Regions from separate parts of the Homo sapiens genome. Here regions 1 and 2 are each linked to region 3. The links come from fine-mapping of genetic effects on gene expression. A gene starts in region 3. Each other region holds a variant in brackets. All regions are shown on one strand. Distances are from middle to middle.

The links. PIP is the estimated chance that this variant, and not a neighbour inherited with it, causes the effect.
Region 1: its variant is the best candidate, but not a certain one, in a credible set for the expression of LINC01187 in NK cells (Schmiedel 2018, PIP 0.87).
Region 2: its variant is the best candidate, but not a certain one, in a credible set for the expression of LINC01187 in whole blood (TOPMed, PIP 0.54).

Annotation. Positions count from the first base shown.
Region 1 is chr5:170,242,882-170,245,567 of GRCh38, reverse strand. All of the region lies in intron 3 of C5orf58 (chromosome 5 open reading frame 58), which reads right to left. Among named protein-coding and RNA genes, the nearest start is that of C5orf58, 11 kb to the right of the region's middle. The variant T/C (reference allele first, on the strand shown) is at 1,627.
Region 2 is chr5:170,247,080-170,249,765 of GRCh38, reverse strand. LCP2 (lymphocyte cytosolic protein 2) reads left to right here. Exons shown (of 21, transcript NM_005565.5): 21 at 947-2,686. The coding sequence ends at 1,069. It also overlaps a transcript of C5orf58 not described here. Among named protein-coding and RNA genes, the nearest start is that of C5orf58, 15 kb to the right of the region's middle. The variant T/A (reference allele first, on the strand shown) is at 1,624.
Region 3 is chr5:170,198,142-170,200,827 of GRCh38, reverse strand. LINC01187 (long intergenic non-protein coding RNA 1187) reads left to right here and starts at 1,687. Exons shown (of 5, transcript NR_108022.1): 1 at 1,687-2,086.

The sequences.
Region 1 (2,686 bases), 45 kb before region 3:
GAGTCAAAGAAAGGGGTGACGGACGCACCTGGAAAATCGGGTCACTCCCACCTGAATATTGCGCTTTTCAGACCGGCTTAAAAAACGGCGCACCACGAGATTATATCCCGCACCTGGCTTGGAAGGTCCTACGCCCACGGAGTCTCGCTGATTGCTAGCACAGCAGTCTGAGATCAAACTGCAAGGCAGCAGCGAGGCTGGGGGAGGGGCGCCCACCATTGCCCAGGCTTGATTAGGTAAACAAAGCAGCTGGGAAGCTCGAACTGGGTGGAGCCCACCACAGCTCAAAGAGGCCTGCCTGCCTCTGTAGGCTCCACCTCTGGGGGCAGGGCACAGACAAACAAAAAGACAGCAGTAACCTCTGCAGACTTAAATGTCCCTGTCTGACAGCTTTGAAGAGAGCAGTGGTTCTCCCAGCACGCAGCTGGAGATCTGAGAACGGGCAGACTGCCTCCTCAAGTGGGTCCCTGACCCCTGACCCGGCTAACTGGGAGGCACCCCCCAGCAGGGGCACACTGACACCTCACACGGCAGGGTATTCTAACAGACCTGCAGCTGAGGGTCCTGTGTGTCAGAAGGAAAACTAACAAACAGAAAGGACATCCACACCAAAAACCCATCTGTACATCACCATCATCAAAGACCAAAAGTAGATAAAACCACAAAGATGGGGAAAAAACAGAACAGAAAAACTGGAAACTCTAAAACGCAGAGCGCCTCTCCTCCTCCAAAGGAACACAGTTCCTCACCAGCAACAGAACAAAGCTGGATGGAGAATGACTTTGACGAGCTGAGAGAAGAAGGCTTCAGACGATCAAATTACTCTGAGCTAACGGGAGGACATTCAAACCAAAGGCAAAGAAGTTGAAAACTTTGAAAAAAATTTAGAAGAATGTATAACTAGAATAACCAATACAGAGAAGTGCTTAAAGGAGCTGATGGAGCTGAAAACCAAGGCTCGAGAACTACGTGAAGAATGCAGAAGTCTCAGGAGCCGATGAGATCAACTGGAAGAAAGGGTATCAGCAATGGCAGATGAAATGAATGAAATGAAGCGAGAAGGGAAGTTTAGAGAAAAAAGAATAAAAAGAAATGAGCAAAGCCTCCAAGAAATATGGGACTATGTGAAAAGACCAAATCTACGTCTGATTGGTGTACCTGAAAGTGATGGGGAGAATGGAACCAAGTTGGAAAACACTCTGCAGGATACTATCCAGGAGAACTTCCCCAATCTAGCAAGGCAGGCCAATGTTCAGATTCAGGAAATACAGAGAACGCCACAAAGATACTCCTCGAGAAGAGCAACTCCAAGACACATAATTGTCAGATTCACCAAAGTTGAAATGAAGGAAAAAATGTTAAGGGCAGCCAGAGAGAAAGGTCGGGTTACCCTCAAAGGGAAGCCCATCAGACTAACAGCGGATCTCTTGGCAGAAACCCTACAAGCCAGAAGAGAGTGGGGGCCAATATTCAACATTCTTAAAGAAAAGGATCTTCAACCCAGAATTTCATATCCAGCCAAACTAAGCTTCATAAGTGAAGGAGAAATAAAATACTTTACAGACAAGCAAATGCTGAGAGATTTTGTCACCACCAGGCCTGCCCTAAAAGAGCTCCTGAAGGAAG[T/C]GCTAAACATGGAAAGGAACAACTGGTACCAGCCGCTGCAAAATCATGCCAAAATGTAAAGACCATCGAGACTAGGAAGAAACTGCATCAACTAATGAGCAAAATCACCAGCTAACATCATAATGACAGGATCAAATTCACACATAACAATATTAACTTTAAATGTAAATGGACTAAATGCTCCAATTAAAAGACACAGTCTGGCAAATTGGATAAAGAGTCAAGACCCATCAGTGTGCTGTATTCAGGAAACCCATCTCACGTGCAGAGACACACATAGGCTCAAAATAAAAGGATGGAGGAAGATCTACCAAGCAAATGGAAAACAAAAAAAGGCAGGGGTTGCGATCCTAGTCTCTGATAAAACAGACTTTAAACCAACAAAGATCAAAAGAGACAAAGAAGGCCATTACATAATGGTAAAGGGATGTATTCAACAAGAAGAGCTAACTATCCTAAATATATATGCACCCAATACAGGAGCACCCAGATTCATAAAGCAAGTCCTGAGTGACCTACAAAGAGACTTAGACTCCCACACATTAATAATGGGAGACTTTAACACCCCACTGTCAATATTAGACAGATCAATGAGACAGAAAGTCAACAAGGATACCCAGGAATTGAACTCAGCTCTGCACCAAGCGGACCTAATAGACATCTACAGAACTCTCCACCCCAAATCAACAGAATATACATTTTTTTCAGCACCACACCACACCTATTCCAAAATTGACCATATACTTGGAAGTAAAGCTCTCCTCAGCAAATGTAAAAGAACAGAGATTATAACAAACTATCTCTCAGACCACAGTGCAATCAAACTAGAACTCAGGATTAAGAATCTCACTCAAAACCACTCAACTACATGGAAACTGAACAACCTGCTCCTGAATGACTACTGGATACATAACGAAATGAAGGCAGAAATAAAGATGTTCTTTGAAACCAACGAGAACAAAGACACAACATACCAGAATCTCTGGGACGCATTCAAAGCAGTGTGTAGAGGGAAATTTATAGCACTAAATGCCCACAAGAGAAAGCAGGAAAGATCCAA
Region 2 (2,686 bases), 49 kb before region 3:
AAAAATGAGTTAGGCTTTTCCCTCTCTAGCAAGCAATCAAGGCTGGGGCGATCCAGGCTATGGCTGCAAATATTGGTTGCTGAGCCTTTATGAGTGTGAAGGTGGCAGTGAGGACACAGCAGAGAGATCATGAAGGAACTCCTGTGCCATGCTGCAGATCCCACCTCTAGACACCATGAACCGTGTCTGACCTCCTGAGTCCTTATGTTTCCTAACACTATTAATGACTGGGGGTGAAATAGAGATGCAGAAACCAAAACCAAAACCAAAAACAGAGCAACCCGAGGCAAGAATATTGTAATAGTGACTATTTAAATGACCCCTTCATATGAAGTTAAAAATATATGCATTTCAAATTACATATATATATATATAGATATGTAGATATATATATATATATATACACACGCATGCACATATTTTATCTATTTTTTTTTGAGATGGAGTTTCCTTCTTGTTACCCAGGCTGGAGTGCGGCAATGGCGCAATCTCGGCTCACTGCAACCTCTGCCTCCCAGGTTCAAGCAATTCTCCTGCCTCAGCCTCCCAAGCAGCTGGGATTACAGGCGCACACCAGCACGCCCAGCTAATATTTTTCTATTTTCTAGTAGAGACAGGGTTTCACCATGTTGGTCAAGCTGGTCTCAAACTCCTGACCTCAGGTGATCCACCGGCCTTAGCCTCCCAAAGTGCTGGGATTACAGGGGTGAATTACTGCACCCGGCCCATATTTTATCTTTATCTATGGTTTGTTGGATGTTTATGAGGAATTTTTTCAAAGTTCTATAGCAGAAATCATTAAACTAATTGCCACATTTACATTTTTTCCCCCCACAATCCTCATCACTTGAAGAGGCAGCATATATTATGCAGATAAAAAAACTGAAAGTGAAGTTCCTGCTTTTCATTCCAATGTTGACTCATCTCCCTATCTTGACTCTTTCAGGACTTTCTGTCTGTGTCAGATATTATTGACTACTTCAGGAAAATGCCACTTCTGCTCATTGATGGGAAAAACCGAGGTTCCAGATACCAGTGCACATTAACGCATGCTGCAGGGTACCCATAGCAAGTTATAGCCGAGCAAATGAACCGTCCTCCTGCCTCTGTTGCCAACACGAGATCAATCAGCCTTGGTCAATGGACAAACACTTAGGACTGAACTGAACCCCTCCCCATGAACACAAGGGTTTTATCCTTTCCTTTAAAAACAGTGTTTGAAATGAAGACTGTCAACTATCCCATAATTTATTTATTCTTCTTCAATGTTTGTAAAGTGCATGAGTCATGTTCACACTTGAAGTCTAGTAGTGCACTGTAATAATTCATTTTTTAAAAGATTATTTAATGCCCATTTCAAAATACAGTAGTTTACACAGCTACAGAAACAATTTGGGGCAAGTTTTAAAACACTGAAACAGTAATAGTTATTGGTGTCACATAAAACTGATTTGTTTTTTACAGCCAAACCTCTGTCAGTCAGAGGCATTCATTAGTTTTATACATGTAATTTGAAAATCACTAAACCTCGTTTTCTCAGCAGCAATAATTTAAGAGGCTTCAAAAATATAATTTCACTCTTATTTAGTATTTTTTCCTGGGGGCATTTTTACGTAATTTTTT[T/A]ATGAAAAGACAAATGCATGTTGAGATAACTTCTGGGATTAAAATAGTCTTTTGCTTTACTTTTTTGGTTTCCTAAAACAACTTTATTGACTTTTAGTCCATACTGTTATATTTTTGTCTTAAAGAAAATTTAAACTACAAATACCAAAAGAAAACATTTTAAATTTAGGGATGAGACTTTGGTGTATCGTGGGTCTAGGTTTAATGAACACATCTGGGGTTAAGTTGGCATTTCTTCACATCTCCACACCCACACCAACCATCACAGCCCCCCACCAACCTTCTCCCAACCCCAAAAGCATTGTCCAGGGATATAGATTTTACCAAAGGCTTCCTGGGAAGACGAGGGAGCAACACTTTAGATTAAATGTGATCAGACTTTCCTATTAGATATGGCTCTTCTGTCTCTTGTTATCCCCCTGACAGCTCTGCCATAAAGTCCCTTCTCCTCATCCTTCCCAAACAGGCTGTATAAGTGCTTTGAGGTAATTAAACTCTTTCCTCCAGTTTACAAATATCACTTAACAAAAAATATAGGCATTCAGCCAGATTAAAAAACTGGTATTCAGCCAAATAGTGACAATCAGTTGTTCTTCAAGTTTTTCCCTTTGGGACCTTGGTTGTTATTGCACAACTTTTATTAGCAACAATTTTTGGCGTCTCTGCTTAATCTACAAGTTTTCGAAATGGAAAAGAGTATCTTGCAGCTTCATTTTCATGAGCTAATAAAAGGGGTATTGGAAGGAATCTAAGAAGTCACCATTTTAAAACTGATGATATGTTAAAATAAGGAGTATGCAGAAGGTAGAGACTTTTAACTGATGATAAAAATGGTGTTTCACAAAATCTCATCCTTAACAACCAGAAGTTCTCAGTTTAGGGTCCAAAACTTGGGAGTTTAAGGCTGAAAACCCTGCATTCATTTACACGTCTACACAACGGGCTATTCAGCAAGTATTTACTTAGTGGCTCTTCTGTGTTAAACAAGTGAGCTAGGTACAAGGTAGTAAGGATAGCATACACCATAGGTTCTAGTATCGAGTAAGCTCCACTTGTCTTGCTT
Region 3 (2,686 bases):
CCCTGTTTGCTCTGTGATAATGAAGCCCAGTGAAGGTCTTGAGCCCCATCATGACTTGAAGGGTGGATTGTGAGAGCTCAAGAGTATGTCTGTGGAGGATGCATTAGGACTGAGTTGGGGGGTCATGACATTTGATCCCTGAAAGCAAGAAAACAGCTTCCACTCTCGGATATGGTTTCCTCTTTTCTTTGATTGCAACTGGTTGTCATGATCCCTCCAGTCCATCTTGGGTGCAGAAACCCTGGGGATTGCCAAAGGCTCCTTTCTGAACCATCTTTTCAAACATGCGGGACATTCCCTGTCCAAGTGAGCTGCAAGGACAAAATAGAAATTTGTGGATGCAAAATGAGATTACTGATGTGGTTGCTGAAACTTATAAAACTCCCTCAGTGATAGGGGTTGTGGTGGCCTGTAAAGGGGATAATGATGACACCTTCAAGCTCTCCTTTTATACCACACAGCCGGTGGAGTCAGGACTTAGGTTCGAATCCAGTCAAGCTATATACATCTGTGTGACTTGGGCAGACACTTTTCCTCTTTTAAGTATCAGTTTCCTCACCTGTAAAATAGGAGTGATAAAACCTACCAAACCTGTGAGATGTCCCCATGACAGAGCACCCAGCACAGGCCACGTAAGGGCTTTCCTGATGTAAGCTTAAGCAGGACAGGCTCGGGCTCAGGACTGAGGCCTCTGGAGCCACCCTCCTACAGGCTGGGTGGCCATGGATAATGTGCTTCACCTCTCTGAAGTCTCGGTTTTCTCACCTGTAAATTGGCCGTAATAACACCTAGGGTATATTTCCTAGGGCTATTGGGAGAACCAGTTAGAATATATTTTTCACATAAAATGTCATTCAGGTAATTATGGCTGTTTAAAGCCTTATAAACTTAGATCTTGCCCTTGTAGACAGAAATGAAACAATTGCTGTGACTGGGTCTGATATCATAGCCAAACCCCTACACAAAACAACAGACTTATCATTCAAACAAATCAGTGAAAATAATTGGTCTTGTAAGTTGTCAATACCCTGTGCAACAAAAGCATTGGTGGAATGACCTTGAGCATTAAGGGGGAGTTGTAGGGATATCTTCTAGAGAAAAGATGGAGTTGTCACCTCCCATGTGCTCTGCTACATCTTCTCTTTAACTTTTCCCTTTGCCCAAAGCAACATGGACCATCTGTTTAATCAACCTCCACCACAACTCCATTCCCCAGTAAGCCAAGTCAGCAACTACTCAAATGCCTCATTCTAAGATGTGCTGATGGAGTGTGGCCTGCCTCAGAGGGTCTCTCCCTTCAAATAGGTCTATATTGTCTGGTTTGTTTGTGAACAGAGCCAGGTAGGTGCCGTGTGGCTCAGAGAGGTGGCTGGAAGTGACCTTCCATGACTCAATTCCACAGGTTTGTTTGCAAGAACACAGACACACGAGTGGCCACTGACAATATGTGTTCCAACATTATATACGGGGTATATTTTGCTCAGAAACATGCCCTGTTAGTTGTTGAAACCTTTTTTGCATTCCCTGAAACAAACGACACTATGGTGTATTTTCTTTTGGGGGGCAGTAAATAAAAGTCTTTTATGTTGACAATGATAATATTATATTCTACAATCTATTTGCATTTCTCTATCCTGTGGATTTTATTGCTTAGTATAAATCCCCAGGCTGAGGTGCATTAAGCTTCACTCAGAGAGAAACAATGCATTTTATCATAGGGCCGGACAGCTATATGCACAAGATGCTACCTGCAGAGATTGGTTTTTGCCCAGATGTGCAGGAGAGATGCACAGAGAGGAAGAAATGCATACATGTGTGCAGGTTTTGGCGTGTGCACAAGAAGCCTGGAAGGATTTTCTTTGGATCTACAGTCAAAATGGATTTCCGAGAGGAAGCTGTCTGAAAACACACCTCTTCCCTGTGCTACATACGGTCCCATCTCTGCCAGCCAGGTTGTCAGGAAAGTGATCAGCACTGGCTTCAACTCTGGCTAGAGCTCTTTGGCCAATGTGATGGGCAGAAAACTGGAATGAGGACAGAAAAGCACCTCAGAGGTTTGAAGAGTCTAGTCTCTCACCACCTTGCTGTAGGTTTTCTGAATACTTCTGAGTTTAGGAGCATTTTTTCTCAACAGGCAAGTCAGGAGCTGCTAAGATAAACCATGGCAGTAAGCTCGAGCCAGTGTTCGTATTTGCCATTGATCGGCCACCAAGTGCTTGCTATGTGCCATGCATTGTGCTAAGCACTATCTCATTTAATATTTACAGCAATCTTATGAGGTAGATGCTACTGTTATCTCCATTTTACAGATGGGGAAACTGAGGCACAGAGTTCCACAGCTGGTAACTTGAGGAATAGGAATTCAACCACTGGAGAGTCTGGCTGGAGTTTTTTGTGGTAGGAGAAAATATGCTGTCTAAATTTGCCTTGGGAAACCATCATGGTGGTCACAAAACCACTTCTACGGCTTGCCTTGACCTAGCAGGAATGAAGATGTAAAGAAAGAATGAGCGCGTCATGGTTATGATGGGATGATGATGTCTGTTGTGTTGTTTGGTGTCAGTTTCTGTAACGCCTTTCTATTTCAATCAAGGCTATTATCTTTTCCTCTGTTTTAGTGAAGTTTCCTTGAAGTAGAAAATGGGAGTGTATTGGGCATCTCAGAGTTTTCAGCTGAACTGAAGGG